Regions from separate parts of the Homo sapiens genome. Here all the other regions are linked to region 1. Evidence: fine-mapped expression QTL. A gene starts in region 1. Each other region holds a variant in brackets. All regions are shown on one strand. Distances are from middle to middle.

The links. PIP is the estimated chance that this variant, and not a neighbour inherited with it, causes the effect.
Region 2: its variant is fine-mapped to the expression of DGKG in atrial appendage (GTEx, PIP above 0.99).
Region 3: its variant is fine-mapped to the expression of DGKG in monocytes after LPS (Quach 2016, PIP 0.95). The same link has a PIP of 0.9 or more in monocytes after Pam3CSK4 and monocytes after R848.

The regions. Positions count from the first base shown.
Region 1 is chr3:186,355,891-186,367,314 of GRCh38, forward strand. It overlaps DGKG (diacylglycerol kinase gamma), which reads right to left and starts at 6,344. Exons shown (of 25, transcript NM_001346.3): 1 at 6,056-6,344. RefSeq lists an enhancer at 5,112-5,629 and a silencer at 6,414-6,503.
Region 2 is chr3:186,419,965-186,431,388 of GRCh38, forward strand. No RefSeq gene overlaps it. Among named protein-coding and RNA genes, the nearest start is that of LINC02020, 15 kb to the right of the region's middle. RefSeq lists a silencer at 4,966-5,055. The variant C/A (reference allele first, on the strand shown) is at 6,741.
Region 3 is chr3:186,235,699-186,245,585 of GRCh38, forward strand. It overlaps DGKG (diacylglycerol kinase gamma), which reads right to left. Exons shown (of 25, transcript NM_001346.3): 20 at 6,806-6,870. Among named protein-coding and RNA genes, the nearest start is that of DGKG, 120 kb to the right of the region's middle. RefSeq lists an enhancer at 6,556-6,605. The variant GCA/G (reference allele first, on the strand shown) is at 6,686.

The DNA.
Region 1 (11,424 bases):
TGTGGAATGAGCTTTTAGGATTGAAGCTGTGATTTCAAGGAACCAGCATGGAATCACTGAAATTAGTTTATGTCAGACCAACAAAATTGCTTCTTTGACAAGATTATTGGACGGAAGATCAAGGAAATACCAGTGATGAAGAATATTTGGAGTTTATCAGAGACCTTTGATAAGATTCTTCTAATAATGTTGAAAAAGATGAAGAAATATGGGCTCAGTTATAGTACAGAAAGCTGAATAAATTTTCTAAGTAAGTGCTGTTTAATTATTGAATTAATATCTATGTTTAGGGAACATACAGTGGAATGCCTCAGAATCCCATAGTGTTCATTATTTTTATTGATGACTTAGATGAAGAGGTCGTGCTCATCAGATTCAGAGATGGCAGGAAGCTGGCTGAGAGGGCCGGTAAATACACTGGATGCTAGAATCACAGCCAGAAATATCTGGGCAAGTTGGCGAGGCAGACTGAACTGAACAAGATAAAATGAGAAACAATGCACAGTCTCTAGAGTGGCTGTGAGGGGGTGTGGGCAAGTATCGGGTGAAGGCGAGCAGGTGGGCAATGCAGTTCAAGAGCAAGTTTAAAAGAGAATTGGGTTACTTCAGTTGATATTAAGCTCAACAGGTGTCAATGGTATAGATTCTTAATTAGACCTTAAAGAGTTTTAATAGAAATAGGAAATAGAATGAGGAGGTGGTAATTTCAGTCTTCTCCATGCTGATTAGGACTCCCTTGAAATTTTGCACTTTATTCTTTAAGAATAAAGAAATTAGAGAAAACTAGGACAAGAGTGATGATAATAATAGTGAGGGCACTGGAGCAAATGGCCCATGAGGTAGGGTGGAGCAGTGAAAAGGGCGTTGGCCAGGGATTTGAGAGCCAAGTTACCCCATTAATAGGTTGCGAGATCTTAAGAGCTGGTTCAGGACTCCCTGAGGAGAAGCACAGACTATGGTGGTTGACTGGTCTGCTCTTGTAGGTTTTTGGTTCCCCGCCCTTTTCCCCCTTCTCTTCCAGGGGAGGAGATGGGGCCAGCATCCACCAACTCCCATCAGTAGGAGAGGGGAGAGTTGCTGGCTTCTGGGTTCTTTCCTCGCAGAGGCTCATGCATGCACAGCCTGGGCCTCTGGGAGTGTCCAGGTTGGAGGGATCCTCGCCATCTGTTGATGGTGTTGTGTGGGGAGTTGGAGCAGTTGGGGGAGCTGGAACAGATGATCTTAGTAGTTACTCCCATCTCTGAGAGTCTAGATTTCAAGACACGCTGAAATCAGGTCAGGCCACACTATGGATGGGTTCCTTTCTCCCTCCTTCACCCATCCAGGGACAGGTTCTCTTAAGACCCTGAGCAAAATTTTGCACTCTTGATATGTGATTCAGAGTCATAAATTATACCCATTGTTTCTCTTGGAAAGCTTTCAAAAGTCCCCTTTCTGTGATTTCCCAGGAAGCCAAGATGGTGGCAATCCTAATCCACATCACAACACACAGCAGTTATTGAGGCAGTAAAGCAAAAGGTCCAAGAAAAAAAGAGAAGATAAATAAAGAGAAAAGGCTTTGAAATCATATAGACCTGAGTTTCAATCTCAGTCTCTCCTATCAGCTTTGTGACCATAGGCAAATTACTGAAACTTTCTGAGACTCAGTTTCCTTATCTGTGAGATGGGGTTAATACCAGGAGTGTAGTGATGTGAATATCAGGTGAAGCTATGCGTGCACAGAACATAGCCCAATGTGGGACTCAGAGTCGGTGCCCAGTAAGTGCTATTGCTAATATTACCACAACATTTACTACCACCATCCCTCCTTTATCTTTCTCTCCCTCATCTCTTCGGGGCTAGGCACTGTGCTAGTGCAGAGGATACAGTGGAAAACGAGACAGACATAGACACACACTTTGCTTGCACCAAGCTTACACTGTAGCACAGTCCAGTTAAACTTTTTGCAATGATGGAAATCTTTTAAATGTGCATTCTCCAATATGATAGCCAGAAATCACATGCTGCATGTAAGCACTAGCAATGTGACTGGTGTGACCGAGGAACTGAATTTTAAATTTCATTTAATTTTAATGAACTAAAGTTAAACAGGAAATAGTCACATGTGAAAACAGACAGCACAGCTCTAGACACCTTTCAGGTATATTTCTGGGACTGACTAGCCTGAGCAGAATAAAGGTATGCTGAAAGAGAAATGCACGTAAAGCATCCAGTACAGGACCTGGAAAATTCTCTTATTCGTTCATTCGTCACATTTAATTGTTGACTATGGATTGGCACTATCTCAGGTGCTGGGGATACAGAAAAGGATTAGACATGGTCTCTGCCTTCAGGGGGCTCATAGTTCAGTGGGAGATATGCAAATAGTGACTTCGCCATAGCGAGGTAAGCTTACGCACAGGTGCTGTGGATTCAGGACATCTCTAGGGTGGGCTTCCCTGAAGGATGTTTCCGGACCTGAGCTGAATCTTGCATAAATTGATCTCAGAGTGGGAGCAACAACAGATTATATTCCAGGGCTACTAAACCCACTGCTGGTGGCAGAGGTGGCTTGGAGATCAACGAGGCTCTAGGAACAACTCATAGCTAGGGCCAGTTTGTTTTCTTCTAACCCTTTGTGTGTGTGTGTGTGTGTTTTGTATTGCCTAATTCAATCTCTCTTCTGCCAGCCACATTTTGTTTCCACCTGAGGACATTTTTTTTAAATGATGGGTATAACTTTATTTTTAAATTGTTTTATTACTATTAATAGTTACTAGCCTTGATTTCTTTTTTTTTTTTAGTCAGACAAACTCTGTTACTTATAAAGTGACATCAGCTCTCACTATGGTTGGGTGTGGAATTCTGATACTTGGTACAAATAAACAACTCTTTGAATATGGCCAGTATGTGAGGAAGCTGTTGCTGATGGGTTAAGCTTGCTGAACCTGGCTGTGATCATGATGCACGTTCACAAGAGTGAATGTTGTTATAATGACTTGTATGGAGAAGTGGGACATTATACACATTTGTATATTTTACATGATGGTTTGATTTGTTCAAAGTTAGTATGTGACATTTAGCTAGAGAATTCTGCAGCTGATACTTGCTCACATAAAAATAGGTATAGCTTTATGTTGTATGGTTTCCATAATCCCTCCCGAGTGTATAAAGCAAGGTGATATGTGTGATTCCTTCTTCCATGAGACTGAAGAATGCTCGTGTGATGTGGCTTGGTCGTGTGAGGCCTTGGCCTATTTGGATTCCTAAAGGTCATCTGCTTGAACTATGGCCGAGTTGTTTCTGGTGAATGGAATCCTAAATTAGTGTACCCTTTTTGAAAAGTGGCTTCTCATATATACTGTGAGCCTTAAAACATTCATGCCCTTTGGCCTGGTGATCTATTTCTAGGCATCTATCCAAAGGAAGTAATGGGAAGTGTGTGCAGTAAAGACTTTGCCCAGAGTTATTTGTAGTTGCTAAAGACAGGAAGCAACTTAAATAACTAACAGTGTAATAATATGCAGCCAGGAAAACAATGTTCATGAAGGTCTTTTGCTACAACACTAATTCAGAAAAAAGCAGAGAACCAATAGCTACAGGGGCTCAGCAACCATACTTTTGAGTCAGACAGCCTGGGTTTGAATCTTGATTCTGCCACATACTAGCTATGTAACTTGGGCAAGTCACCTGAAGTCTTAGAACCCTAGAAAAATGCAACCCTAGAAAAATGGGATTGATAGTAATAACACCTCAGAGGGACTCCTGAGGATTAAAGGATATAATGAATATAAAATTTAACACCATGCAAAGTATACTTATTAGGCACCCAATAAATGCTGGCTCTCTATGGATTGTATAATTTCGAGGCATAAAAACAGATGGAAAGGAAATATGCCAGTATATTAACAGTGTGGGATGGGAGTGGTAGGATCATGGGTGATTGATTTGTTCTTTGCATACTTTTCAACTTCCCAATTTTTAGGCAATGAACATGAATTACTTTTATACTAAAAGAGTACATTATAATGATGTAATACAATAAGATATACATTTTAAAAGTTTTAAAGTTTTACCACAAAGAAAAGGTACTTCCCCGCCCTTTTCCCCCTTCTCTTCCAGGGGAGGAGATGGGGCCAGCATCCACCAACTCCCATCAGTAGGAGAGGGGAGAGTTGCTGGCTTCTGGGTTCTTTCCTCGCAGAGGCTCACACATGCACAGCCTGGGCCTCTGGGAGTGTCCGGGTTGGAGGGATCCTCACCATCTGTTGATGGTGTTGTGTGGGGAGTTGGAGCAGTTGGGGGAGCTGGAACAGATGATCTTAGTAGTTACTCCCATCTCTGAGAGTCTAGATTTCAAGACACGCTGATGTTTGTCGTTTTCTCCCCATGTCTCGGTTGATCTGAACCAACCACTCCATAAAATTCTAAGGTAGGAAAGACTCATCTACTAGCTTCCCACCCTAAAGCCCCTCCCAGAAAAATACCTGTAGTAATGCCTATAGTGCTGGGTGTAAACGTTAAGGGTGATTGGCAAAAAAGACATAGATCAGGAGTACGACCGGGAAGTTGGCTTAGTTGCAGCCGTTTTATTTAAGGAGTATAATTCATATTCGGAATGGAATCTCCAGCAAATGTAGTCTTTTAATATGACAAACAGTTAAGTACCTTCCCATGTTAGACACATGCCTGGAATGAGAGTGAGAGGGACATAAAATATAAAGGGGTGTGTGTCTGTGCCTGGGTTCATGACCAAACCTCGACATTTGCCCTCTATGATCTAATTTCCTTCATTGACAACCAGGGTGCCCTGTGTGCCAGCAAGTGGCTCTGCCAGCTGTATTTTACAGACAGAGAATCCCAAGCACCAAAATAACAAAGTTGATTCCCCCATCCAGACCAGAGGGGTCGTTTCCAGTCCTGTGTCCTGACCACTGTCTCTCATCATGACCCCTGGTGTTCACCTCCAGATCCAAAGTGTCGTCGCCAAGCCCCCAAAATAAAGGAATGACAAACAGCCCTCCCAGGCCCTCCTCCCCACAGAGAGGTCATCGTATGCTAATGAAGTCCGAGGAGGCAGCGGCGCAGCGCGGGAGAGCGCGCCCACGGGTTCACAGCGCTCCCGGGCACCACTGCGGCGCAGCCACAGATCGCTTCGCGCTGCAGCAGACGCTCCCGCCGCGGGGGGCGACTGGGGGAGGGGTCTCGACCGCCACCCTGAGTTCCGCAGCTCATCCCTCCCATCTGGGAGGTGGTTCTAGCTCTAGTCCCAAGCTTTCCACTGCAGTGATGGTGGGGATGGGGGCAGCACGTCAAATCACCTGTAGGGCTTTTTAGAACTCCACAGCCCCCTCCCCTAATTCTATTCCACTAGTTCAAACGAAGAAAATCTCAGACTAGGCAAGGGGAGGTGGACCGGTGGAGTCTGCGAAAGCACCACAGGTGACTCCGGGTACGCACTCCTCAGGACACAAGCACACACACGGACACATCTTGTGACTCTGAGACTACACAGATCAACCTCAGATTCGACCCTTCCCTCCTTTATTCTCTGAGGTGTCCGTGTTCGCTTCAGCTTCCCTTTAAGTCGCCCTGCGCAGGGGCTTTGTGGAGTGCCCCCAAAGTCCTAGAACCCCGCGGGACGGTCGGAGGCTTTGGCGGCCAGACATTAGGAAAAGCATCTCCTGCTTCTCGGACTGCCTGGAGCGCGAACTGGATATCAAGGAGCCAAGGTTAAGTCCAGAAGAAGAAGGAAATCCGACCAGTTGCTTTAGCAAACTGCCTGGAGCAAGGCCGCCTCCCACCCGCACAGCTTTGAGGCTTGAGGGGGCCTCTCAGTCGCAGAGAGAGCCGAGCCCCACCCTGTGCGTTCCCCAAGCCTGCACCCCTCGAGCGGGGCATCCCTTCCTGCAGGGCTTTGTGGCAGGTGGAACTGTCGGGGTGGGCGCCGTGGCTTTGGCTGCAGCCCCTTCCCTGGCCGCGGGACCGGCTCCCGCTTTGCCCTCCTTTACCAAGTTGCTGCACCGGGTGCTCCCTGAGCCGGGGACCCCCTCCGCCGCGCCGGCCGCCGTCTTACCTCACCAGGCAACACTTGGTTGCGCGGTGGCCCGGGGCGCTCCTTCTTCGCGGTTTATTCCCTTACTTGGGAGGAAAGAGGAACCGAGAGACAGAAGGGGGACCGAAGCTGGCCTCTGGGCGTCTTCCCGCCTGCGCAGCCCTCTCGGGGGAGGGGGATGCAGCCCCAGTGGGTGCCGCGGAGACCAGGCTGCCAGGCTGTGGTTGGTAGCGCCGGGGTCTTCACCCTGTGCTCGGAGTTCAGCAGCTCCAAAGCTGTCTATCTCCGTGGCCCGCTACTACGGCACTGCGGCTCTGTGCCCTGCCCCTCGCAGCCTGGCAAGTCCAGCTGCCACTCTCACTGCGGAGCCCTGCCCCCGGGCGCAGAGCCCGCCCCCGCCACACACACCGGCGCGCGCGCGTACACACACGGCACACACAGACACGCGCTTCCACACATGCACACGCGTGCGCACACACGAATGTGGATCCGCTCGATGGGAACCTGACCCCCTTTGGTGCAACTAGGGCGCGGGCATCATTAGGACGCTTTTTACTGACAGGGCTTCGGTTTGGGAGGAGGAGTTACAGGCTTAGGAGTGTGGAGAGGATGCAACAGTGGTGGGTACCAGAGGGCCCCTGACCCCGGAGGCAAAGGACAACTGTTTGACAAATAAATACCGACTGGGCGTTTCCTTTTCTCAACTCTGGTCAAGGCTACCGTAATATCCCGACCAAATCGAAGAAAAAATAAAAATACAAAATCAACAAGTTCTCTTTGTTTCCCAGGAACTCAGTATCTCTAGGATCCAAATCACTAGCCCTGTCCAGAGGGTCATTTCTGACAACCTTGACTTCGGTGGCAGTGGATTGGTGGCAGTTCAACTCGAAAAGGTTTTCCCCTCGTAGCCTGGTGGAGACTGGCACAGCCTGCCTGAGCTGGACTCTGTTGGATGGGTCGGGTCTCTGGGTGTGTTTAATTCCCATTCTCCTTTGCTTTTAGGTGACCTTGGACTGTATTCCTGCAGAATAAATAGATCTCTTCTTTTTTTAAAATGTAGAAGAGCACAGAAAAGACGCTGGGGTGAGGGGTCGGGGGGAATAGGGGAGCTACATTAGCCAAGGCACTATGACTTGTTGCTTCTCTTTCCATGACGTGCATGTCCACGTGAGGGGGTGATGGTGGTGGTGACACTATTTCAGGCATGTCACACAGCAAGATGACTGCTGTCCATTTCACACCACATTTAGAGTCATTAGGAGTTTAGACTGTCATCTTTAAAATATGTGGAGTTTACTCATTTCCACAGCCGAGAATTCTTTTCTGCCAGTGGGCAGTGAAGGTCCCCGGGCCAGCACTGCAGCCAAGAAAAGCTTTCCGCAGAGTGTGGAGGCGCCGAGGGGCTCTGGGTGTCTGTGCATTTGGGGAAGAAGCCTCAAACACGAATGTCAAACAGCCCTGAGGACCCTGTTGGGTGGTGTCCATACTAGGCTATCTGCAGGCAGGCTGGTGAGACAGATGAGAAACAGAGCTGAGAGATCTCCTTAAGATTCCACACAGTGATGAAGACAGAGCTGATACCAGAACCCCGTGTTTGCGACTCCTCTTATCCTCTGGGTCTTATCCATTCTATCACCCTGGGTGGCTTCTCAAAGTTTCCTTCAGCTAGGCTGAAATAATCTTGGTGAGGGTGCCTTCAAAGTTCTTCCTTGTCCTTTCTTTTTTTCCTCTTCAGTCACTGACTCATTCATTTTACAGCTATTTATTAAACTCCTACTCTGTCTTCAGGTGCTTCCCCGTAACTCCAGTCCTGGGCCTTACTTGGGAGGAAAGAAGAACTGAGAGACAGAAAGGGCTTAGAACTGTCCTCATCCCTGGAAGAGAGGAGCCCTGAGCACAGGTTTCTGGTATATATTTTCACTCTGCTAGGTTGCATGGATGTGGAAGACACAATCCTTGCTTTTTTTGACTGCATGCTCAATGGAGGAAAATGCACATACATGTCACAAGAAAAACATTCTGGCTGTCTATTCTTGACTCCTTCTAAAGAAGGCTAAACTGAAGGAGACCCTGTGTTTGGCTGAGCATCATAATGGACTTGGGGTACATGTTTGCAAATAGGTGTTAGGACAACATTGAGTTGCTCTGCCTATTAGGACAGGAAGGAAATAAATTGAATGGAACAAATGAAGAAGACATGCAGAGACTGAGTGTGGAGCCTTAGCTTCGTTGAGAGCACATTGGGGAAGGGTAACGAGAGGGGAGGAGCTCTGAGGACAGGGTTGCCAAGCAACTTGCCTGAGAACAGGCAACAGGGTTGCCAAGTTGTCCAGGGATTTGGACAGGGGAGATGCTTGCAAAGATTGGTAAGTAGTTTGCTGTGGGGTGGGCTATGAAAGCCCCCGGTCCTATGAAAGAAATCATTTGTAAAGTCAATATTGTTCATCGGTTTGCTTGCAAATGGATTCCTTTAGGATCAGGATGGAGCCAAATGATGCATCTGAGTTGCTGCAGAAGGAGTTCAGAGAAGGCTGTGTGGACTGAGTTACATGCTAATAACATGGAGGAAAAGGGTGGTAGTAGAGGCTGAAGCAATGTGGAAGGCAAAGAGGGATGGGGCGGGAAGAAGCACCAAGAACAATTAGTGCTAATGGAGGCATCATGGAGGAGGTAGGGTTTGCGATCGGATTTTAAAGGGGAATAGAGATCTCACTTAAAGATCAACAGGACAAGGGCAATCTAGGCTGGGAGAAAGCAAAAGCAGAGACGTAGGACAATTCATGGTGAGTTCTGGGTCTTCCCAGCACAAGAAAAGAAGGCTGGGACAGTATTGTGGGAGTCTCCAAATGCTCTTCTGGGAGCATAGACTTGGGTTCCACAGTGAGGAGCTATGGCAGGTGTGGATTTTTTGTTGTTTGTTTTTGATGGGAAATGAGCTGGGAAGCAAGCTGGGAAGTATCTGATGCCAGCTTTCCCAAGGTAGGCCTTCCCCATCAGAATGGAGCACTGTGGGGAGGGAGTCCTTGTTGCTGCTCTCACGAAGAGCCAGAGCCCAGGTGGCTTATGTGGCTTGCTGCAGAGGGCACCCAGCTAAGGGGCTGAAATCCAACTCATGCCCCACTTGCCCAGCCACACAACCTGTTAGGGTTATGTCTGCCTGGAGGGAGGGATGCCTTTTCTCTAATTTGCATGGGCTGACAGAGGCCCTGCAACTGAGCTCTTTATTTGAAAAGGCTGAAGCTACGGTGAAACAAGTGAGGATTTATTGGGCATTTGCTGTATGTGCAAACATAAGGTAAAGCAGAAAGAGTCTTGAGGTCAGGACTATCTGTGAGTCTGAGCATGTCTCTGCTCTGTGGTGACACCCTGAGACTTACTGTAGGGTACAGAGGAGGAAGCTTAGTGCCTCTCCTCAAAGATTTTGCAATCCATGTCAGTTATAAAACAAACGCTCCACTGGTTAAGAAACAGTGAACGACAGTATGGAATCAAGTGCCAAATTGCACAGGGCAGATTCTCAGGGCTTGAGAAAGGAGACCTCCTCTGGGCTGAAAGAGTCAAGGCAGGCTTCATGGAGGAGGAGGGCTGGGTTTGGCAGTGGAGCATGTGTATGTTGGTTCTCAGCCAGAGAAAAGACCTGCGAACAAAAAGCCAGAGGAAACGAAGCTGGGGGCTTCTAAGCATGGATTTTTAGCCGCCACAGCCACCCTAATGCCATTCCCAATTGTAGCCCAAGCGCTGTGATGAGTCACCCTTGTTTCTGAGAGACGGGGCATTTTTGGATGTTTAACTGGTTCAACACTTTACATTCCCTGAGACTTCAATGTTGGCAGCTCACACTCACCATGTTGCTCTGGGAACACATCATCCAAGCCAGCAGCTGATGCCTGATCTCCACTGCCAAGGCAAAGCGAGGGCTGAGTCAGGTACCTGTGTCTGGAAATTTTTAGTCCCACTGTCTCTGACAAGCTGAGCGAACAGCACTTGACAGTTGGAGCACAGCTGAGTTCAGGGTCACCAACCGCAAGGTGGGCCGGGGGGGTTCTGCTCGCCTTCTTAGGCCTCACTTTTCCCATGTACAGAACACAAAGGATTATACCAGATTATCTCCAAGCTGTCTTCCACCTAATATTTTATGATCTCATAATTAATGGAATCTTTCCATGTTATCAAGCAATGACAGGATGGGAACAGATACTAGCCAAGTCCGAACCTTAACTTTCCTCTTGGTTTTGACTGTGAAGGCTGTGGTGGAGTGAGACTGTGGGTTGGAAACAGGAGAACCAGGAGCTCCTGGTCACAGTTTTGCCATGAATGGGATTTGGGATCCAGCCCTGGGAATGTAGGCAGGAGATTCCCTCATTTTAGTTTTCTTAGAAAATAAGGAGGCTGGAAATGGTCCCTACAACCCTTTCTGGCACTGATACTCTGTTAAGTACTAGCAACTGAACAACTTTTAAGTACCGCCCCCTTGCCTGGGTGGGGCCCTCCACAAGGCAAGCTGGGAAAATTCTCACAATATCAACTGATAAGCTTGAAGGAAAGCACAAAGGAGAAGCCATGGGGTTCAGAATAATAAATAGATAATTTAGAATTAGATGGAGTCAAAAGAGCTAATCTGAGTCTCTAAGCTCCAATTTCCTCTTCTGCAAAGTGGGGATAGTAATACATGCATCTCAAGGTAATGATTAAATGAAGAAGCTTATTTGAAAGTGTTTTAGAAGTGCTATGCAAAAATGTAAAATACAGTTATTGAAGATAGTCTGTTCCCTTAAGGTAGTCTATTTTTTAAAGCCTAGTTATTATACTACTTGCTAATGTGTCTGCTTCCTAAGAAACAGCAATTCAGGTCAGCAACTCTTTATACACCACATTAAAATATAGTAATATTTTAACATGAAAGATGCTGGTGGACTTCAGGACTACCAGAGTGCACATCTGCCCCCTGCCTGGAATTCTACAGTGTCACTGGAGTTGCCCACAGTGGATTTCCCAGGAACTTTGATTGTGTTTACTTGACAGTGAAGGAGACACCTACCCATCCAAGATCCTGCTTTGATGCTTGCCTATCCGGAGACAGATGGTGGAAAGAGGGGAAGGAGGCGTGAGTGAGTAGGGAGAAAAAAGGAGGCTTTCTTCTTTCTGTTATATTTTGGGCAAAGGATGTTAAACTTTATGCTTTAATGAGCTTGTAAAAAGGCTAATTTGGGTTCACTACATTACTCCAGGTCTGTTTTCTGCTATGTCTGGTCAAGAGACACCGCCGTGGAACTCTTCACTGTTGTCCCTGGAGGGGAAGCTTTTCACAGGAAACGCTGGGAAGAGCCACAGAGGGGAAAAGGTTCTAACTCCCTAAATGACCATTTGCTTCAAAGCCTGCCCAGCCCGCA
Region 2 (11,424 bases), 64 kb after region 1:
CTTGGTAAAGATTATATTACCTGGCCTTATCCAAACCATAGACATGCTCCAGGTGTTAATTATTTAACAGCTATTTGAATAATCATAAATGTGGAACGCAATGAAGGTTCTTGCCAAGGTCTGAGGATACGTGGTCAGGTGCGGTGTGGAGGGGCATCCAGTCAGTTCTGGTGTTCCGATTTTAATAACACCTAAATGAATTTCTCAAAATTTAGGAACCTAGAAACACCAAAAACACTTTAAAAAACGATCCAGAACACTTTATTTTAGAAAGATTGGTATTCAAATTTTTTTAATCAATCAAAGGAGAAAAAACACTATTTTAAAAAGTCAGGTTTATTGAATATAATTATATGGAGTAAAATTTACCTTTCTAGTGTACAGTACTGTAGATTTTGACAAATGCATACAGTTATATAACTGCTACAACAATCGAGACACATAATACTTTTATCACCCCCGAAAATACCTTTGTGTCTCTTTGTGGTAAGCCCTTATTCAATTCTCAGTCCTTGTCAACTCCCGATCAGTTTTCTCTGTTATGTTTTGCCTTTTCCTTAATGCCATATATTACCCACTGTGTAGCCTTTTGGATCTGCCTGCTTTCGCTTACCATAATTCAACTCGAGATTCGTCTACTTTGTTGTGTGTGTCAATACTTTTTTAAAAGTTTCTGATTAGTATTGTATTGTGTGGATGAACTAGAGTTTGTTTATCCATTCACTGGTTGAAGAACATTGTTTCCAGTTTTTGATGATTGTGAATAAAGCTACTATAAACATCCTATTCCAGGTTACTGTATAAACATAAAGTTTCCTTCTCTTTCTTGACGCTTATGAGTAGGATTGCTGCATTGTGTGGTAAGTGTCTGTTGAACTTTGTAAAACTGTCAAATGGTTTTCAAAAGTGGCTATACCATTTTGCATTCCCACCAGGAATGGATGAGAGTCACAGTTGCTCAACATCTTTGCCAGCATTTATTGTTGTTTTTAGTCATTCTAATAGACCTACACACCCGGCTCATGGTTTTTCAAATGCATTTCACTTGCATTTCCCTCATAACTAATGATGTTGACATATTTTCATGTACTTACTTCCCACCAACATATCTTCTTTTCTGAAGAGTCTCCTGAAATTGGCCAATTTGAAAAATTGGATTGTTTGCTTTATTATTATTGTTTGGAGAGTTCTTTGTATTAAGGACTTATCAGATATGTGTTTTATAAATATTTTCCTCTGTTGTGTGCTTGTCTTTTCTTGTTGTTTTGTCATTTTGTGTGTGTGTGTGTGTGTGTGTGTGTGTGTTTGAGATGAAGTCTCACTCTGTTACCCAGTCTGGAGTGCAGTGGCCCCATCTTGGCTCACTGCAACAACCTCTGCTTCCCAGGTTCAAGCAATTCTCCTGCCTTAGTCTCCTGAGTAGCTGGGACTACAGGTGCCCACCACCATGCCTGGCTAATTCTTGTATTTTTAGTAGAGATGGGGTTTCACCACATTGGCCAGGCTTGTCTCAAACTCCTGACCTCAGATGATCTGCCTGTCTCAGCCTCCCAAAGTGCTGGGATTACAGGCATGAGCCACCATGCCCGACCTTGTTTTTTCATTCTCTTGACAGTATCTTTTGAAGAGCAGATGTTTCAACTTTGAAAAGGTTTAATTTATTATTTTTTCTATACTTTTGGTGTTATAGCTAAGAAATCTTCATCTCACCTATAGCCATAAAGATTTTCTCCTATGTTTTCTTTTAAAAATTTTGTTGTTTTAAGTTTTACACTTAGATCTGATTCATTTTGAGTTGAGTTTTGTATATAATACCAGGCATGGATCACATTTCTCTTTTTTACATTTGGATGTCAGTTGCCAAAACCATTTGAATGACCTGTACTTGGGTTTACTGGACAGTTAAATGTACATATAGTTCATTACAATGTGGTTACCAATGTGTCCCTGGTGGGTCTTTCATTCATTCAGTTATTCAAAGATTTCTCAAGTACCTGCTACAATCTAAGATACTAATCATGAAGAATCACTGCCTTAAGGTGTTTACTGTCTAGTGTAGGAGAAATACATGTCAATAGTATATAACTATACTATGATGCAGAGAGTAACAAGCTGCATATGTTCTGCCCAAGAATAGAATCTGAATCATTTCATGATTCATGTCAAGAACCTACTAGACTATTTAGGAAGAAGCTATATGGTAGGCTAAAAATGGAGGTAACTGAGTAACTGGCCCAACCCTTTGGACAACTGGCCTCTGAGGGATTTGGCAGAAATGCCAAGTCAGAATGTTTGAATGCTTACTTATAAATGACAGGCACCTGAAAATCTAAATGGTCATATTGAAATGCTGGAGAGTTGGTGAGAAACTTGGTCTTGGAGACAACTCAGTCTGCAGCTTCAATCAAGTCACTTCAGCATTCTGGGCCTCAGTTATCACATCTATAAAGTGAAAAACTTGGACCAGGTAATCTATGTGTTTCTTTCAGGAATAAAAAATGCAAGAATGTGGAAGTTTGGTGCTATGCTACTGAAACATAGGAAGCTACAGTCATATTAGGTGAGTTGATGGATGCTAGACAGAAAGATATAATTATTGAGTGCTTAGGCAAATCTATGGGTGTTAAAGGAATGAAAGGATATTGCTCATAAGTTAAAATTAAAACCAGACTTACACACTATATACATATATATATATATATATATATATATATATATATATATATACATGTATGTGTGTATATATATATATATACACACATACATACATACATACATATACTTGAAACAGGGTCTTGCTCTGTCACCCAGGCTGGAGTGCAATGGTGCGTTCACAGCTCACTGCAGCCTTGACCTCCTGGGCTCAATTAATCCTCCCACCTTAGCCTCCCGGGTAGCTAGGACCACAGATGCACCACCACACCTGGCAAACTTTTTGTATTTTTTTTGTAGAGAAAAAGTTTCACCATGTTGTCCAGGCTGGTCACGAACTCCTGAGCTCAAGTGATCCACCTGCCTTGGCTTCCCAAAGTACTGGGATTATAGGCGTGAGCCACCATTCCTGGCCACACACCATATTTTTTTGAGGGGTAAGGAGCACTCATGAGAAAATGAATTATTAGACATTACTGATATTTTCAAAACCCTGTAACAAGATCTGTGAAAAGTCTGTCACAGTGTTTCCCTTATATTAATGATAACTCAGTTTTCCTCCATTATGGCCAGGGACATGCCTAAGAAACAGGAAATAAAAGGCATGAAAATAAAAGGGTAATTTTTCTGAATGAGGAGGTAAAAAGAACAGAGATTGGCCTCAGAATATTTTGTCATGCAGAAACAAATAAAACTGATACTAAATATCTCTAGTTTGTGAATGTCAATTCAGTGGGAACAAGCTCTTGTATAATCTTATAAAGCTGAGTGTTTTAGGTAAACCAAATTATGTTTATAGGGTGATAGGCAACTAAAGGACCAGTTAAGACAAAGGGCAGTGACTTGAGAGTCACCATATTCACAAAAGATGTTGCCTCTAGACTCTAGAGAGTGTGATAGCCAAAAACAGTAAAACAGGCTGGGCAACATCAATTACCCCTAATGGGATGTGGGTTACTTTGAATGAAATATGAATCAGAAACACTATCCTCTCATTATAAAAACCATGGGGGCCTCCAGACTAGGAAGCTGTGAGCCAAATCCTGGCTGCTGAATGTTAAGGAAGACACAATTGAGTTAAAGGATTTATGTCAGAGGGTAGAAATGCTGCCACATGATTCCAGGGTTTAAAAAAATGGGCCCAGTCTAGAAATTGAAAGGCTTGACATGGAATATGATCAGCTATAAAAGTGTTAACCTTCAGAAGAGAACAAACTGATGTTTGCAAAATGCCAGAAAATAAAGAAAGACCAGTGAAGCTTAAAAACACAATACTTTCTACAGCTATGAATTTCATTACCTCAAGAAGAGACCAAGAATGATAACTTGAACAATTTTCTATAAGAATTAGCTAATAACCTTTTGGGTTCGATTATCCACTGACTGAAAGGAATCAAATGTTTTCAGGGTAATATCATGGGAGGGCTGTTTGTCATCTTGGTCTCGAAACCAATAGCCAAACAAATTTTCTTTCACATTCAACAGATCATAAAAGGTAGTAAGTTTTATGCTGAGTTCTGGGGAATCTCATACTGTTGGAGCAGCTATCTAATGTCAAGTTTAGAATTTACATTAGGAGGAAACAGCTTTCTGCAGATTTACTTTTCCCAGGCCAACCATCTGACAAAAAGAACAATCAGCTCCCAAGGTGGTGCCTCCCCTTCCAACAGTGGTTCTGACTGTCTGTCCAGAGAAAGGAAATCCTAAATGACCTGTTCATCAGCTGGACATTCCTGTGCCAATCAGCCTTTTTACTCCACTGAAATATTTAGATAGTTACAACAAGCATATAAGTGAACGTTACAATCTCACGCAGAATCTAAAATAACGTCCTACGTCAGGCAACTAACAATAAAAGTAAAATTAGACTGATATGACCACACGAACAACAGAAGACACTGGATGCAAAGTTTGGTGGCATGATCACTTGAAACGTACAACAGAGGTAACCCAGTGCATATTTAGGTTCTTGTGAAGTAACTGTGATTAGCGGAATTAGGCTTAAGGAATGAGTGGCCAAAAACCAAGTGTTAAAATGAGTTATTTTGGGAATCCCTTTGAGAAAGCTCTGAGGGTCCCAGACGGGCATAAATATCCGGTGGTTGGGCCGGGCGTGGTGGCTCATGCCTGTAATCCCAGCACTCTGGGAGGCCGAGGTGGGTGGATCACCTGAGGTCAGGAGTTCAAGACAAGCCTGGCCAACATGGTGAAACCTCGCCTCTACTAAAAATACAAAAAAAAAAAAAAAAAAAAAAAATTAGCCGGGTGTGGTGGCACGAGCCTGTAGTCCCAACTATTCGGGAGGCTGAGGCAGGGGAATCGCTTGAACCCAGGATGCGGTGAGCCGAGATCGCGCCACTGCACTCCAGCCTGGGCAACAAGAGCGAAACTCCATCTCAAAACAAACAAAGATCAGGTGTTGGGCAGTGCTCGGTCAGTGGTGGCCATGGCTGCGCAGGAGGAGGCAGAGCTCAGTCTTTGGTGGGTCACGCCTCTGTGGTTCTGCTTGGCTGGTTTTCTGTAGTGCTATACCTGCATATACAGCTACAGCTGTCTTGAGAGCTGACTCCGTCTACTTTTTTTTCTCTGAAAAATGAAGTTACTGAAAGCAAAGTGTGTTTCTTGAGTGTGTTTTTATCCTTGACAAGTGTTAAGGATACGGAGTACATACAAAATAACAAACTGAGAGCTGCTATTACTGTCTATTTTAAGCCTCGGTAAGCTGCTTGAACTCCTAGAAAAGAGAAGGAAGAGACAGGGGGTTGGGGGAGGGGGGCATGATACAACCAGGTGCAACCTGGGGTCAACTAAAGAAGACACAAGGAGAATAGGCATGACTTTTAGGGCGAACTTCAGAGAGAAGAGAAAGGCTGCTCTCAACCTCTTTGAAGGAAAATTTATGCAAGACTCCCAACTTGCTCACAATCTGCATAAAGGCAGCAAACGAATTGAGTAAATTACCTTTGTCCTCACTCAAGGGATATCTAATAATAATCCCAAGCTTTATTCTTTGGTAGGGCAATACACACAGCCAAAACTGCCCCAGTTGTTAAAAATGATTAAGTATTTCTGTATTCCTTGGAAAAGAACTGCTATCTGAACCACCGGAATGCTACCAGCTATCCCATTTGCCCCAGCTCCTCAACTGGGACTCCCCAGACCTCTGCCCACTCCCGCCAGGGTGAATGCCTGGCCCCGAAGGTCACTGCTGCAGCTCTAGAATGTTCATTCTGACTGATTGGTGCCTGGACTACACTGATTGTGAAAGTATCCTATCTGTTCTCAGGCAATGGTCGTAAGCGACACTGCTGACTAAGCCAGAGAGTTATTAAAGTAACTTAGTGCAGGATGGCAAGGAAGTTGGGTAGAGATGGAAGAAGAGACTAGCTCAAGGTTGCCTGGGGATGGGGAGTGAGGGGCTGTTAGTGCTGAAGCCTCCTGGACTCACTACATGAAGAAGGATCCTCCTTGGTCCTGAATGGCATGGCAATACCCATTTACTGCCTCTAGGAGAAGCTGGGAGGAACAGATCACAGCTAAGAAGCAACAGGAACCCCAGAGGGGAAAAGTCTTACGTAAATATGCAAGAGGATTAAAAACAGAAAAAGAGAATATTAATCCAAACCACAAGTGTATTTTCAGACTGCCAAGGTCCTGAACTCCTGCGTCTTACGCACCTCAGTGTGAATGGTGCTTTTACCAAAGTAAGAGAGAATTTAACTCAACTGAGGGACTTATAAGGGAGGTTAAGGGAAAAGTTCCAGATGGGGTAGTATAAAAATGCAGAAAGAGCAAATAATTCCTTTAAAGAGTAAATGCCACCAAAGGCCCCAATTTAGCAAATGCCTGTGTATCCTCGGAACTCACTGCACTTACAAAATATCCCTTCGGGGCATGGCATGAAATTTGACCATGCAATAAGATTTCCTTCATTTGGCATATGTTTATTGTGTTTACATATTTGGTCTCAGAGCCAAAAATACGCACAGATAGGTCCCAGGCCAAACTTGTAAGCAAATGAAAATTTTTTGTGACTACTTCTTCCATCTTCCTTTCACCTCCCTTTGCCCTCCAGTGGTCAATCTAAC[C/A]CCCTCTGAGGGATGAGTGCTTTTGGCTCAAGTGGTAATTCCTTTTGGAGAGGAATTATGAAGGACACATTCCATTCAGGACCTGGAGGAGTGAATCTCTGTGAGTAGGCTTATCACGAGGGGTGGGAGAAGGCCTTTTGGGGGCCAGTTCACAGTAATTCACTTTTTTCTGGGCTTGGAAGGAAGAGTTCCTCAAACAGTAGACACTTTGCATTTCAGGTGCATGGTTGCAATTGTCCATGCAGCCAGGGAGGTCTCTGTTTCTAATAGTCAAGCTCCAGCACAAAGGACTGGATAGAAGTGATTGAGCTGAGGAATGTCTTAGCTTCCCAGCAGGATAGCCACCAAAGCAGCAGGCACACAGGGAGGGGACCATAGAGGAGTATTGATCACTGACAAAGGAACTGCTGCCCCATGATGTAGGAAAGAGTAAGTCCGCTTTAAGTCAGTTTCATTATTGATTTTAAACTCTCTAGGCCAGGCGTGGTGGCTCACGCCTGTAATCCCAGCATTTTGGGAGGCTGAAGTGGACAGATCACTTGAGGTCAGAAGTTCGAGACCAGCCTGGCCAACATGGTGAAACCCCGTCTCTACTAAAAATACAACAATTAACTCGGCATGGTGGCGGGCGCCTGTAGTCCCAACTACTCTGGAGGCTGAGGCAGGAGAATCGCTTGATCCAGGGAGGCAGAGGTTGCAGTGAGCCGAGATGGCACCACTGCCCTCCAGCCTGGGCATTAGGGTGAGACTCCATCTAAAACAAAACAAAACAAAAAATTCTCTAGAGACTATGTATGCTTTTATTTACTGCACTGGGGGTGGGCCACTTCTACCACCAGCCCTGCCTGCAACCTGCCCAGCACAGAAGTACCTCAGAGGTTTCTCAGCCCACACAGTTTTCCCTGGGAGCTAAAGTCTGAGAAGTCATCTCAGTACAAACTGACAATGGCAAGGTTAGGAACAAAGGCAGAGGTGAGGTGAGGAACTTGGGTCTGTATGTACTATGAGGACGCCTTTCTGCCAGGCGAAAGAGAAGCAGACTGCGGTTCCTGGCAGGGCAGCCACACTCTCCCAGCACCCTCCTGCTCAGTCTCTGGTGACTGAAGCATCACAGGAGGCCTCGCCTGTGTCCTCCAGTTGCTAGGGTGATTTAAAAATAGCTTCTGCAGCTGGGGAAGGGGGCAGGGGAAGAATGAAGATAAGTGGCCTTTTGCAGGAAAACCAAAGTCAGTGAATCCTCAAAGGCAATGACCCTCCCTTGCAGGAAGGTGTCCTGTGTTTACTGTGCTTCTTACCTGAAAGACAATCTTTTTGTCCTGGGTCTGCTGTGGACTCTTTCTGGTAAGGACCCGGCTGCCTCTGGAGAAGGCCCTGTTCACTCTGTGGACCTGCAGCCAGGAGGACACCGGCAGTCTCTACACAGAAACAAACAGTCGGTGTTCAGGATCAGGTTCAGAATGATTGTTCTGCCAATATCAAGATGAGGCTTTGCAAAGCACGCCTGTCGACAGGAGTTCTATTGGGAGAGGCCGTGTGCAAGGGAAGAGTGGCACAGGGCCAGCAACATCCTCTTCAACTTTTTGCATTAGGAATTCCCATTTTTTAGTGTCAGTGTCAATGGGTTGGTGTGCTGTGTTGGGTAATGGCAGCCAGAGTCCCAGCCACGTCACCCTAACTTTAGGCTATTTTCTCGGTTCAGTGTGAGTGTTTCAGGCCAAGTATCCCAGTGAGGGGACCAACCGATTTTTGAAAATTACTTAGTGAGTATCCCAGGAAGGTGTTGTGGTTTAAATCTGTGTCCATCTCTCCTCTCTCCACTTAAGAGACTCTACCTCACTATTACCAGGCTTTGGGAGATAGCAAAAGCAGTTATTTTATTTATTTTTTTTTTCAGGAAAAGATTCAGGACTCTGGCATTAAATTTTATGAGAAACTTCCTAGTTAAGCAGTCTTTGATCCCCTCAAAGGAACCACCAAAATAAAGTCTGATATTCAATGTTTTGGGATGTTGTAAAGCTATAAAAAAAGAATAATAATTAAAATGTATAAAAATACTCACAATAAAGTAGAAAACAGTTTACCAAACAGTATAAATAAAATCTTAATGTTTAAAATTATAAAGTATATGTATATAAATATTACATCTTGCCACATGTTACATGTATATAATTGTATATGTACATCCAATATAAATATGGACCAAGTGTGCTGGCTCACACTGTAATCTCAGCACTTTGGGAGGCCGAGGCAAGAGGATCACCTGAGGTCAGGAGTTTGAGACCAGCCTGGCCAACATGGTGAAACCTCGTCTCTACTAAAAATAAAAAAATTAGCCAGGCATGGTGGTGGGTGCCTGTAATCCCCAGCTACTCAGGAGCCTGAGGCAGGAGAATTGCTTGGACCAGGAGGCAGAGGTTGCAGTGAGCAGAGATTGTGCCGTTGGACTTCAGCCTGGACGACAAGAGTGAGACTCCATCTCAAAAAATAAAAATAAATAAATAAATATGATACCAGATTGTTTCTGGATTGTTCAATTATAGTTATTTTTCCTTCTATATGCTTTTATTTATATTTCAGATTTTTCTACATGGAGTATTTCATTACTTTACAACTTCCTAATGCAATTTAAAAAATATATCCACATTACGAAGCTGAAAGTTGTTCTTCTCTTAGGCATGGCCAAACAAAGGCAGACTAGTGGTCTGGTGGCAGAAGTGGCCTTTTCTTGCCTTCAGAAACTCCCAGGGGATGGAAAGTAAAGACAAGTCTCCTTGGAGGTAGAGGGAGACCTCCCTAGCTCTTAAATCACTGTTGAATGCTAATTTGCTCAAAAACCTGGAGGGAGCTATTCAGACCCTTTATAACCCCCTCTCTGGACTGGTCTCATTTTGTCATGAATCAAAATGTTATCCTCACATTTAACCCAACCCCGCCCCCCAACCCCACCGACCCCCCCCACCCCACCGACCCCCCCAACCCACCGACACCCCCAACCCCACTGTCCCCGACAGGGCTGTAAAACATTTCTAGTGGGCTCAGGGGCAAACAAGGTTCTCAGGCCCAGGGCACCCACCTAGAAACAGCCTAGGCACAAAAGCTGCATTCCAGGAGCCTGAGGCGTGGCCTCACTAGCATGTGGCAAGAAAGAGGGTGGCCAGTTAAATGCCTTTACTGCCTCACTTGTTTTCCAAATATATATGGTGGCTCTCAGCAGGCTGACAAAAACCTCGCCTTGAGCAGGGCCTTAATTACCTTTTTTACTGCCTCTGGACTTCAGTTTCCACTTTTGTAAAATGAGAAACTTAAACTTAAAAGTTAAACTTGAACTCTAAGTTTCCTCCTGGCTCTGGGAGTTGTTTGGAGGTAAACAGTTGCTCTTCAATTTTATGGATGTTCCAAAACCCAATTTGCCCCCTGAAATCTTTGGAGTAGTGTGAACTACAAGTCTAGGATCCAGGTGCATGCCGGAAGCCGGAAGCCCAAGGACTGAGTCCAGCCCACAGAGATGTCTTTTTTGGCTCACAGAGTTAGAAGGGCACAGAATTTGGAAAAAATAGTCACTTACCAATCTTTAAAAATAGGGCCTTTTTGGCCAGGTGTGGTGGCTCACACCTGTAATCCCAGCACTTTGGGAGGCCAAGGCGGGAGGATCACTTGAAGCCAGTAGTTCGAGACGAGCCTGGCTAACATGGTGAAACCCCGTCTCTACTAAAAATACAAAAAATTAGCCAGGCGTGGTGGCATGCGCCTGTAGTCCCAGCTACTCAGGAGGCCGAGGCAGGAGAATTGCTTGAACCTGGGAGGCGGAGGTTGCAGTGAGCCGAGATGACACCACTGCACTCCAGCCTGGGTGACAGAGTGAGACTCTGTGACAAAAAAAAAAAAAAAGGGCCATTTTGAATAAAAACCTACATTTCTGGATTTTCTTCACAAATCGTAACATCTGGCAATACTGGGCCTTCATGGAAATAACCTTCTGGATCTGAGTGGTGGCTGCACCTTTTGAAAGAGACGTGGGGTCTCCAGGTGCCCAGCTGCTTCAGTTGCTGCTGTCTCCTGGACTCTGAGGCTGAATGGCAGTGGCCATTCTCAGGTTTCTTATAACGGATCTGGTCTCTTCACTCAGTCATGTTACCTCTCTGACTCTTGCAAGCATCTGAGTTTGCGATGTCTGATTTCTTGGGAACAGAGGTCACCTTTGTATCTTCCACAAAGCTTTGCTCGGTAAGAATGCATAAAGGTACTCAATTTATACTGTTCCTAGCCACCCAAAATGAAGGGTTTGGTAGACAAAGTGAATCAATCCTTGTGTTCAGAGTTTTACAGTGTTTTTAGGTGAATCGCTTTCCTTCCCCACGAAGGCAAAGGATTTGCTCCTGAGTAAGCCCCTGGCTCCTGCAGGTCCTCCTCTCGGGCAGCCTTAATTCTGGCCCTGGTATTTCCTTGGAGTGTGCCTAGGGAGGTTTGGCTTAAGTTTGGCTTCTCACTTAGGAGAGGACTTGCCACATACCTCCATGGAGACAGAAAAGGGACTCCGGGCTCCCCTCGTATATCACTTTTGACACTCACTTTAAAACACAAGAGCATATTTTTCATTTGCCAGCCATCCAAAGACGGAATCCTCATCCTGTTTATTGACACTGGGGATTTGGATAAGCTGCTAGTAATACAGAGATGGCAGTTT
Region 3 (9,887 bases), 120 kb before region 1:
CTGTGTGACTTGAGCTTTGTCGGTTTCTATTTTGTTCCCCACAGAACATCTCTGTCTTTATCTGAGGTCAGGGTTGGGGAGAGGTACGTGGTGGGTGAGGGGAAAGAAGTATCCGTGAGGGAGGGTTAGTCACATCCCCAGCATCTGACCACAGGGCCACTTGCCTACCTGCCATGCAGTCCATGACCCCTGCTAGTAAGCCAGAAGCACCCAGGGAGCACATGGAATCTGTCCTGCCACTCTCCTTTACTCACTCCTGCCCTGTTCCTCCTGAGGCCATTTCACCTGGGGTCTATGACCCCCTCCCTTGATCCTGCTAGCCTGGATTTGGCACTGGACTTCGAATCTCTAGTGTCCAGATCCCCAACCTCTGCCTCTTGGACTTCCATGGAGCCAGTGAAGGGGATTTCCTCTAGAGCTTCTGTCCTGTAGAATCCAAACCAACCAAAGTGGTGCCATATTCCCACCCCCAGGAGAAGGATTTGGGCAGATTCAATGCATCACTGCTGGGGTCTCCTCCAACTTTTAGTTGTCCTCCAACTTTTCAGGTTAAAGGCCATGTCAATGGAGCATTGATTCTGTGATAACTGAATCCAATTTGTCACTCCATTAAAAACAACCCTTTTATTGTCAATACTTTATCGTCAATTTAAGGCAATGCTTGTTATTCAATGATATTCAACAACAAATGTTTATTGCGAACCTCCTGTGTACTATGAACTTAGGTATTATGTCACTAAATACTTATAGCAACATTGCAAGATTTTCAAAAGAGGCAGCAAAGGATTAAGAAGATTAACTTGCCCAAGGTCACATAGCTAATAAGCGGCAAAGCCAAGTTTTGATGCCAACTTACTCTATACCCTGCTGCCTTCTTCTATAAATAGTTACTAAGTGCTTAGTTATTTACAAGGTATATTTCCAACCTCTTAAAAACTCAAGCTACATTAGGGCTTCTGGGGAGCCCCTCATCAGTGACTCCATGGGACCTGCTCCAAGAAAGCTAATATTTCAGAACCTGTTAATTAGTCAAGGGCTTTTGAGAAAGGTGGTCAGCTTCTAGTAGGAATGAAGCACTGCTTCGGTCCCTCTGAAGGGCCTAACAGGAAATAACTTGCTTCAGCCTCAACTGCTGAGAGACGCGGTCAAGTGGATACACTCAACAGGTTTAGAATAACACATTCCGCAAGTACTCTGAGTTTCTAACCAACAATGAAAACATTCCACAGTTAGACTTCTCTTTCTAGACACTCACTGACAGTGACATTAGAATTAGGTGGCTTTTATGTATAGATTTCATATGCAAAACCCTTCATGGAGACTTAATCTGGAAACTTCATGGTGGGCTGGTTTTTGGCTATCTGGAAGACTTTGACGGGATTCTTGGCTCCTCTGCTAGTACTGATTGCTGCCTGTTTGTGGGACTGAGAGTCCCTCTCCTTCTCCCTAAGTTGAAACCCTCTTTCCTCCATTCTTTTGACTTTATTGCAAACACCCTACTCTGTGACTACTGGCAAAAGTGTCTTCTTTTTATTAATTCCTCTGTCCTTGCCAGGGCCACCTCATAGGTGTGAGATGTGGACTCCAGGGCCCCACACTTAAGAGGGCTCAGTGCTTAGTTTAATGCTTTGCTGTCCCATTTTTGAGGAAGGGGCCTCACATTTTTAATTTTGCACTGGGTCACACAGATCATACAGCCAGTCCTGCTCCTTGCTGTGGACGTGGAAACAGGGAGAATGCTCACACCATACAAGGTATGACTGGATGGTGTACCTGTTCTCCTCCCCTTTGGAACTCAGCAGGCATTTTCCCACAGAGACAATCCATAAAGGCAGATGATGCCAATGACAGCTCCATCCTCCTTAGCCTCAGTTCCTTCATTTCTAAAATGGGGACAGTAGCACTTACCCTTGCATGTTATTGTGAGCAATGAGTGGGATGATGTATAAAGTACTTATCAGAGTGTCTGGTATACATCAGTGCTTGCTCAATGAAATCTATGTGAGACAGCAGTTGCGGCAAACAGAGCTTGGACTCTGGAGTGAAGAGCTAGGTCAGAAATTAAATTAGCCCCACTGCCTAAAAAATACATGACTTTTGTTAGTTGACTTGGTTTCTTCCAGTGTCAGTTCCTTTATCTGTAAATGGGAATGCTAATATTTATCTTGAAAGGTTGTTTTGTGATTTAAATAATTTAATGTATTTAAAGACCCTAGTTCACCACTTGGCATCTAGGAGGAGCTAAAAAAATGAAAACAGTTCTTAGTCAGGTTCCCCTTTAACACTATTGCTACACCTAAAACAACCAATTTGGCCAGGAGTGGTGGCTCACACCTGTAATCCCAGCACTTTCGGAGGCCATGGCAGGCAAATCACTTGAGGTCAGGAGTTCAAGACCAGGCTTGCTGACATGGTGAAACCCCATCTCTACTAAAAATAGGAAGAAAAGTTAGCCAGGCGTGGTGGTGTGTGCCTTTAATCCCACCTACTCAGGAGGCTGTGTAGGAAAATCACCTGAACCTGAGAGGCAAAGGTTGCAGTGAGCCAAGATCACACCACTGCACTCCAGGCCAGGTGACAGAATGACTCTTTCTAAAAAAAAAAAAAAAAAAAAAAAGACCAAAAACATCCCCCAAAAAGAAAACAATCCATTTGCAAATGATGTTTGGGATATGACCATTAATAAGTTCTTACATATTATACGACTTCCTGTATACTATATCACCTATGAAATGTAACCACCTTGTATGTTAAAATAATTTTGTAAAGAATACTTGAGCACTATTTTTCCTTTTCTTTTGCTAGACGACGATTTCCTTGAAGGCAGGGGCCACATCTTATGTGCCCTTTATTCCAGATCACTTTCAAACACTTTAGAATCTCAGTTGAATCAAATTTCTCTTTTGTTCTTTATGCCAACAGTGAGACGATAATCTCCCTAACATTCCTCAATTAGCAATTAATGATTAGCCTATTGATAACTAGGAGGTAGACAGGGCCAAAAATAACCCCATCTCTGCCGTTAAAGGCCTTTTCTTTTTTGCCCATCATACATGGCTCGTATTCCTGCCTCCTCGGTTCTGGTTCTTGCTCCATTAATGAAACTATTCCATCAGAGAACATAACTTGGTTTTCTGGAACCCACTATCTTCCCTGGCAACAACCCATCTAGAGAGGCCATGGAGGAAGAATTTCCTGAAACCCCAACATTTGAGTCATAATTTGATGCCTCTTAGGATTCAAAGAGGCCTCAGACCTGTGACTTTTAAACATTTTGGGAGTATAGGTTCCTTTAAGAATCTTCTGATAGTTATGGACATTCTCTGCAGAAAAATACATTCAGTACCTTAGTACAATTTCAAGGTGTTCTCAAAACCCCTGAAGCCCTTGGATCCCAGGTTAAGAATTCTTGTTAGAATAGCCAAGAAAAGGGAATCAGCAACGTGAATGATTCCGGTTTCCTGGTAAGTGTTCCGGACCTGACTAGTCACTCTCCCTTGCTGAAAACAAAACAAAACAGAACAAAACACAGCAATGACAACTCCCAAGATTTAACCTCAAGATTATCCCTGAGAGTCCAAACCTGGGCAGTAATGGTAAAGGCTTCCGGCCAAGCAGTAACTACTCTTTGGAGAACCTCAGTTCAGCTGAGTAAAATAGGCCTTGTTTGATAATGCCGTTTACATTTCCAAATCCTGGGTATCAAGCTTTCTTCCTATGCCTTGCGGCCTTTCCTAAGTTTAGCCGCTGGTGTAATGGGGTAACCATGGCAACAACCACCTGCCTATTTAAAACCATCTCCAATGCTAAATAAGGAAGCCTGAAGAAAATGGCTGCTTGCCTGCCTCTCAGTGGACAAATTGGGCACTCCTGGGTATTTTAGACATGGGCGAATAGGCAGGGTAGAAGCAGTATGTATGCAAAGTTCTTCATAGGAAGCGTTCGGTGACCTTGTGAAATAGGTGCTACCTCAGCCCTTCTGTCTTCGTTTGTTAGGCGAGCACGCAGGTTTACGTGCAAATCCGTGGGCCTGTCACCATGTCATCCATGCTACCTTGACCTCAGTCAGGTGAAGAGTGAGCTGAGAACCTACCCTCAGAGAGAAGTATTGTTTATAGGATCTCGGAAGGGAGAAGGAAAAACAGTTCTACAGATCACAGTGAATTTGTTCATACTTTGCATTAAAATGCACGCTACAATCTTTTTTTTTTTTTTTTTCTGACGGATGTGTCTTTCTAATTGTACTTAATCATGTGGGTGATGGATGATTGCTCTATTTATGTCATATGTTGGCCTGCCTATTGATTTTTGGCATATGGAGAAATTTCTCCCTCCCTCTGCTTCCTTGCTTTCTGGGAATTACAGATGTTTGGTTTCTTTCCTCTGCCGAGACCATACAACTGATCACACTGAACATCTTGCTCTTCCACAAGTATACTGCACCCTCTCACTCCTTCGTATCTTTTCGTACATTTGCTTCCTTCTCCCTGTGTTGCCCTCCTCTTTTTCCGTGTCTTGGTTCAGGCGTCTCTGTCATTGGAAAACCCTCCATGCCACGTTTCGTGTCCTTGGTTTTTGCTCCCATAGGTCACCTCCAGTTACATCACTTAACACAAACCATTCTGCACATCTGCTTTCCAGCCTGTTTCCAGCACCAGGCTGTGAGTCCCCTACATGCGTCTGTCCAAAATGCCTGTAGAACAGTGTCTGGTGTGCATTACGTTTTCAAAAGATCTGCTGAATGAATGGATGAATGAATGAACAGAGCCCCGTGGCTTTCACAAGCATATGGCACATGTGCATGAGTACGTATAAGGATACTTGTGTGAGGCCGGGTGCAGTGGCTCAAGTCTGTAATCCCAGCACTTTGGGAGCCTGAGGTGGGTGGCTCACTTGAGGTCAGGAGTTCGAGACCAGCCTGGCCAACATGGTGAAACACTGTCTCTACTAAAAATACAAAAATCAGCTGGGTGTGGTAGTGGGTGCCTGTAATCCCAGCTACTTGGGAGGCTGAGACGGAAGAATTGTTTGAACCCAGGAGGTGGAAGTTGCAGTGAGCCAAGATCGCGCCACTGCACTCCAGGCTGAGCAACAGAGCGAAACTCCATGAAAAAAAAAAAAAAAAGATACTTGTGTGAAAAGAGGACCTTAAAAGCCTGAGGAATGGGTTGAAGAGGAGTACTTTTTAAAAAAGTGGTTTGTGTGTATCTGGGAGTGCAAAAGACCGTTAGAGGAGATCATCTGAACTGTAAGTTTGTGACTATAGTATCAGGGGCTGGAAGTACACGTGTTCCTAGTGTGCAGTGAGTGTGTATAGTCTGTGTGTGTGAGAGCAAGAAGATGCTGTGGCAGGATGCACTTCCTAAAAGGTTCGTTCAGCTGCTATCGGATCCCACAGATCGCTCTTTCTGAAGCTATAGTGTTCAGTTTCTGACCTCTAAAAAGACCTCCTTCTTCTTGGTTGACTTCTCAGGCTGTGGGGTCAGGACAAAGAGTAGGAATGAAAATGGCCAGTGATGAAAATGATGGGTCCTGGGCTTTAAATGAATGTCTTCAATGAACACTCTAACCTCTCTTTTAAGGACAATTCTTGCTTGTAATCCCAGCACTTTGGGAGGCCGAGGAGGACGGGTCACTTGAGGTCAGGAGTTTGAGACCAGCCTGGTGAACATAGTGAAACCCCATCTCTACTAAAAATACAAAAGTTAGCCAGGCATGATGGTGCACGCCTGTAGTCCCAGCTACTCAGGAGGCTGAGGCAGGAGAATCGCTTGAACCTGGGAGGAGGAGGTTGCAGTGAGACAAGATCACGCCACTGCACTCTGGCCTGGGTGACAGAGTGAGATTCCATCTCAAAAATAAATAAATAAATAAATAAATAAAAAGACAATTCTGTGGGCTAAATAAAAGTCAACACCTTTAGGCTCAAAAACAAAGTCCAAATCATTATCCATTCTTCTCCCAACCTACCTAGGGTTGGGGTGGGAACAGTGTCTGAAATAGTGGTCATCTTGAAATAGTACAACAAAGAAAAAGAAAGAAAGAATGAAAATTGACTAATGAGAAGATACAGACAAAGAAGGAAAGAGGGAGAAAGGGGTAGCTATACGTCAGTCACAACTAAGTTCTGGCAAATTTCATCCTACAAGGAAGAAGGGTTTGCTTTCTCTTGCAAATGATCTGGTTTCCTCTTTCCTTTCATTTTTGAACCTAACTTGGTGACTTCACAGAGTGCCCAGGCTGAGGCTGGGACTTAGTGGGTTCCGGGTCTCCAGCCTTTGCAGGTACCTCTCTGCTGCTGCCCTCTGCTGTCGGGGGAGGCAAAGGAGACACCCTTCTGGTCCTCCTGGTCCAAGTCCCGGAGCTGCCACCTCCTCCCATTTGAGACCGACAGAAGCTAGGGTCTCTTCCAGCCTCCCTGCTCTTCCCCAAAAGAATCATGAGGGGCTGGGGTTGGAGGCGCTGTACTTGGAAGCAGCAGAGACTCAGGACGGGGGTTCCAGTTAGACAAGGGCAGACGCCCTCCCACCTCCTCCCCTGCAAAAGCAGGCCCTTCATACCCACCTCCTGCCCTCCAGCCCTGCCCTCTGCACAGATCCTTTGGGAGAGGACAGGCAGTTAGCCTGCGCCAAGTTTCTGACACTTTTTTTTTTCTTGGAAATGGAAACCCTCCTTCCGGCAAGTG[GCA/G]GGAAGGCCAAGTCCCCAGCGGCCCTGGCTGGGAAAATTTCCAGAGAGCAGGTGAAAGGCCTCTGTTCCGCCAGGGCCACACTGGGTGGGTGGCAGCGCAGCCGGGCCTGCAGCTTACCTGCTGTTGAATTTTTCAGGATGTTTCTCTCTCATCACATGGAATCTGTGTGCAATGGAAGCGTCCTGAAAGTGAAAGAGACAAAGCAGATCCTTGGTGAGTGGTCATGACAGTGCAGTGCGGAGGGAAGGGACGCACGCATGCACTCGCTGAGTCATGCCAACCCTGGGACTCTATCTATCGCATGGTGGGGCTCCAGGTCACATCCGCGGAGCCAACAGAGGCTCAACACTGCCTCCAGGGGGATGAGCTAGCACCACCAATACTCTTACAGCCTATGCCAGTTGACTCTGGAGTCCTTGCTATTTCACTCTAGCCCGGACCCGCTGAGAACAGATAGATAGTTCAGGGGTGAGTGAAGGGGAAAGCCTTTGCCCTCTGGGGAGACTGAGAGTCTGTGAGCAGTTAGAGATCAGGAGCCTGTGTCTGGGGCTGAGCATGAGTCTCTGGAAATGACTTTCCATACTAGTTCTTTTTAAAATAGTTTTTATTTTGGAATATTTTGACTCACAATTAAGTTGCAAAAATAGCATAGAGTTCCTAGGTCCCGTTCACTCAGCTTCCCCCAATGATAACATTTTATATAACTATAGGATATTGTCAAAACCAGAAACCTGACATTGGTAGATGCTATTAGATATTAAGTCTTAACCATCCACACCAATAGAAATAATTAGTGGCACTGGATAACATGCTTACTAGATAATAAAACAAAATTAAACTCTGGCTTCTGCTTCTTGATCACTTCACTCGAAGGACTCCCTCCAAGGCCAATAAGAGTCATTATTACATCATGTGGACACTGCCCTCCTATTAGCACATCCCTTTGCCACACTAGCGGCCCCCTGCACTCCAGCACTCACAGTTAGGATGGCTGTCATGCACTGTGCTCCTGGGCTCTCCATCCTCTGACCACAACTCCCTAACCCTGGGTTCTACCTGCGGCCCCCACTCCACACCGTGGCCATCTCGTGAGTTCTCGTGGCTGTTACCAGCATCTGAATGATGATAGCTCCAAAGTGTCAATCTCTAGAGCCAACCCTAAGCCTCAAACCTGAAACGGAACTTGTCTTTCCTCCTCAAACTCGGTCTTCCACCCTCGACAATGGTCTCATTTTCCAGCAGAAGAATGTGTAACGCCCCTTCACCGCTCAGGCCCCATACTGGTACTTTGGGTGCAGGTGCTGGGCTTCAGAAATAAACAGGCTAATTGAGCCGGAGATGGGGGGTGACACAGAAACCAGGGAGTTGACTAGATTTGTTTTGCAATGAAAAATATACAAACCCATTTACTGGAATACATGGCTACAAAACACTTGAAATTCCATGCAGTGAATTTTGAATTTTCATCAAATGCATATTAATTCTATTTCTTATATGAAAATTTCTGTGTTTTTTTTTTTTTTTTTTGAGATGGAGTTTTGCTCTTGTCGCCCAGGCTGGAGTGCAGTGGCATGATCTCGTCTCACTGCAACCTCTGCCTCCCAGGTTCAGGCAATTCTTCTGGCTCAGCCTCCTGAGTAGCTGGGATTGCAGGTGCCTACCATCACACCGGGCTAATTTTTGTATTTTTAGTAGAGACGGGTCTTCGCCATGTTGGCCAGGCTGGTCTCGAACCTCAGGTGATCTGCCCGCCTCGGCCTCCCAAAGTACTGGGACTGTAAATGTGAGCCACTGCACCTGGCCTCTGTGTGTGTTTTTAAGCATCAAGAGGTATAGTTCTATGAAGAAGCTTTTTGAGCATGAACTCTGTGTGGTGAGGTGCACCTGGCATAGGAGTCCAGCAGCCCACATCTGAAAGGTGGCAGGGCAAGAGGAGAAGATGGGCTTATTTTGTGATTGGCAAACATTCTTTGCTAAAATGATGTTTTGAGAGTTTAAAATTTAAACTTTAGCTATTGATGTTTTTTTTTTTTTTTGAGATAGAGTCTCACTCTGTCACCCAAGCTGGAGTGCAGTGGCACAATCTTGTCTCACTGCAACCTTCACCTCCCAGGTTCCAGAGATTCTTCCGCTTCAGCCTCATGAGTAGCTGGGATTACAGGCATCCGCCACCATGTCGGGCTAATTTTTTGTATTTTTAGTAGAGACAGTGTTTCACCATGTTGGCCAGGCTGGTCTCAAAACTCCTGGCCTCAGGTGATCTGCCCAACTTGGCCTCCCAAAGTGCTGAGATTACAGGCATGAGCCACCAGGCCTGGCCAATTTATTTTTTAGCTTAAGATATATTAAGAGTTTAAGGTCTTGGAGAGGCACCCCCATGGGTGCACGGGTGAGATGTGCGGACCCCAGAGAGGCCTCTGTCCCTGAGGCCTATCCAGCCTGCACCGCTTCCCTGGGCAGCAGCACTTCATGCTCCCAGACTGTACCCACCTCCCACTCTCTGAGCAAATTTCAGTGAACACCCTCAATAAGATTCATGTGACATTTGTCAAATGCTTCTCTAAAATTCGAGAAAATATTCCATCTACTTCTATTCCTTTGAAGCACTAATTTTCGTCTGTCAGGAAAAAAAAAGTGGAGGGGGGCGGGGAAGAAAAAAGCAATCACATGTTGCCTGGCACAATTTGTACTTCGCTATCCCCTACCCCCAATACTGCTGATTGACTCCCAGCTTTTTTATTCTCCGGGATATGTGTACAGGCCCCCTCCTTCCATGCAGTTCTGATTGTCTTTGGTTTTTCCATAACTAGGTTTTGCAAAGATGCTTTTTACAAAGACCAGCCTTTAAAACATTATTAGTGAAGCACGTGGTCCCTAATTTGACAATGTAATCCCTTGGCAAATACACAAAGTAGCAAGGGAGAGTAGAGCAGCTCCTTTTCTAAGTCTTAAAAAGGCAATGAGGGTGAAGACTCTGACCACGTTTCTCTATCTGGGGATTAAAAAGAGAGTCGAGATTCACTTTCACTCTCTGGAGCTTCTATGTCAGGCAATGACCTGAGCATATTTACAATCAGTAGTGACTTCATTTAAATTTGGGAAACCAGGGCTACGATGGTTCAAACCCTTTCTTGGTTATTAAGGCGTAAACCCTTTCTTGATGATAATTAAGGCAAAGCGAGACTTCTGTTCTGAAGGC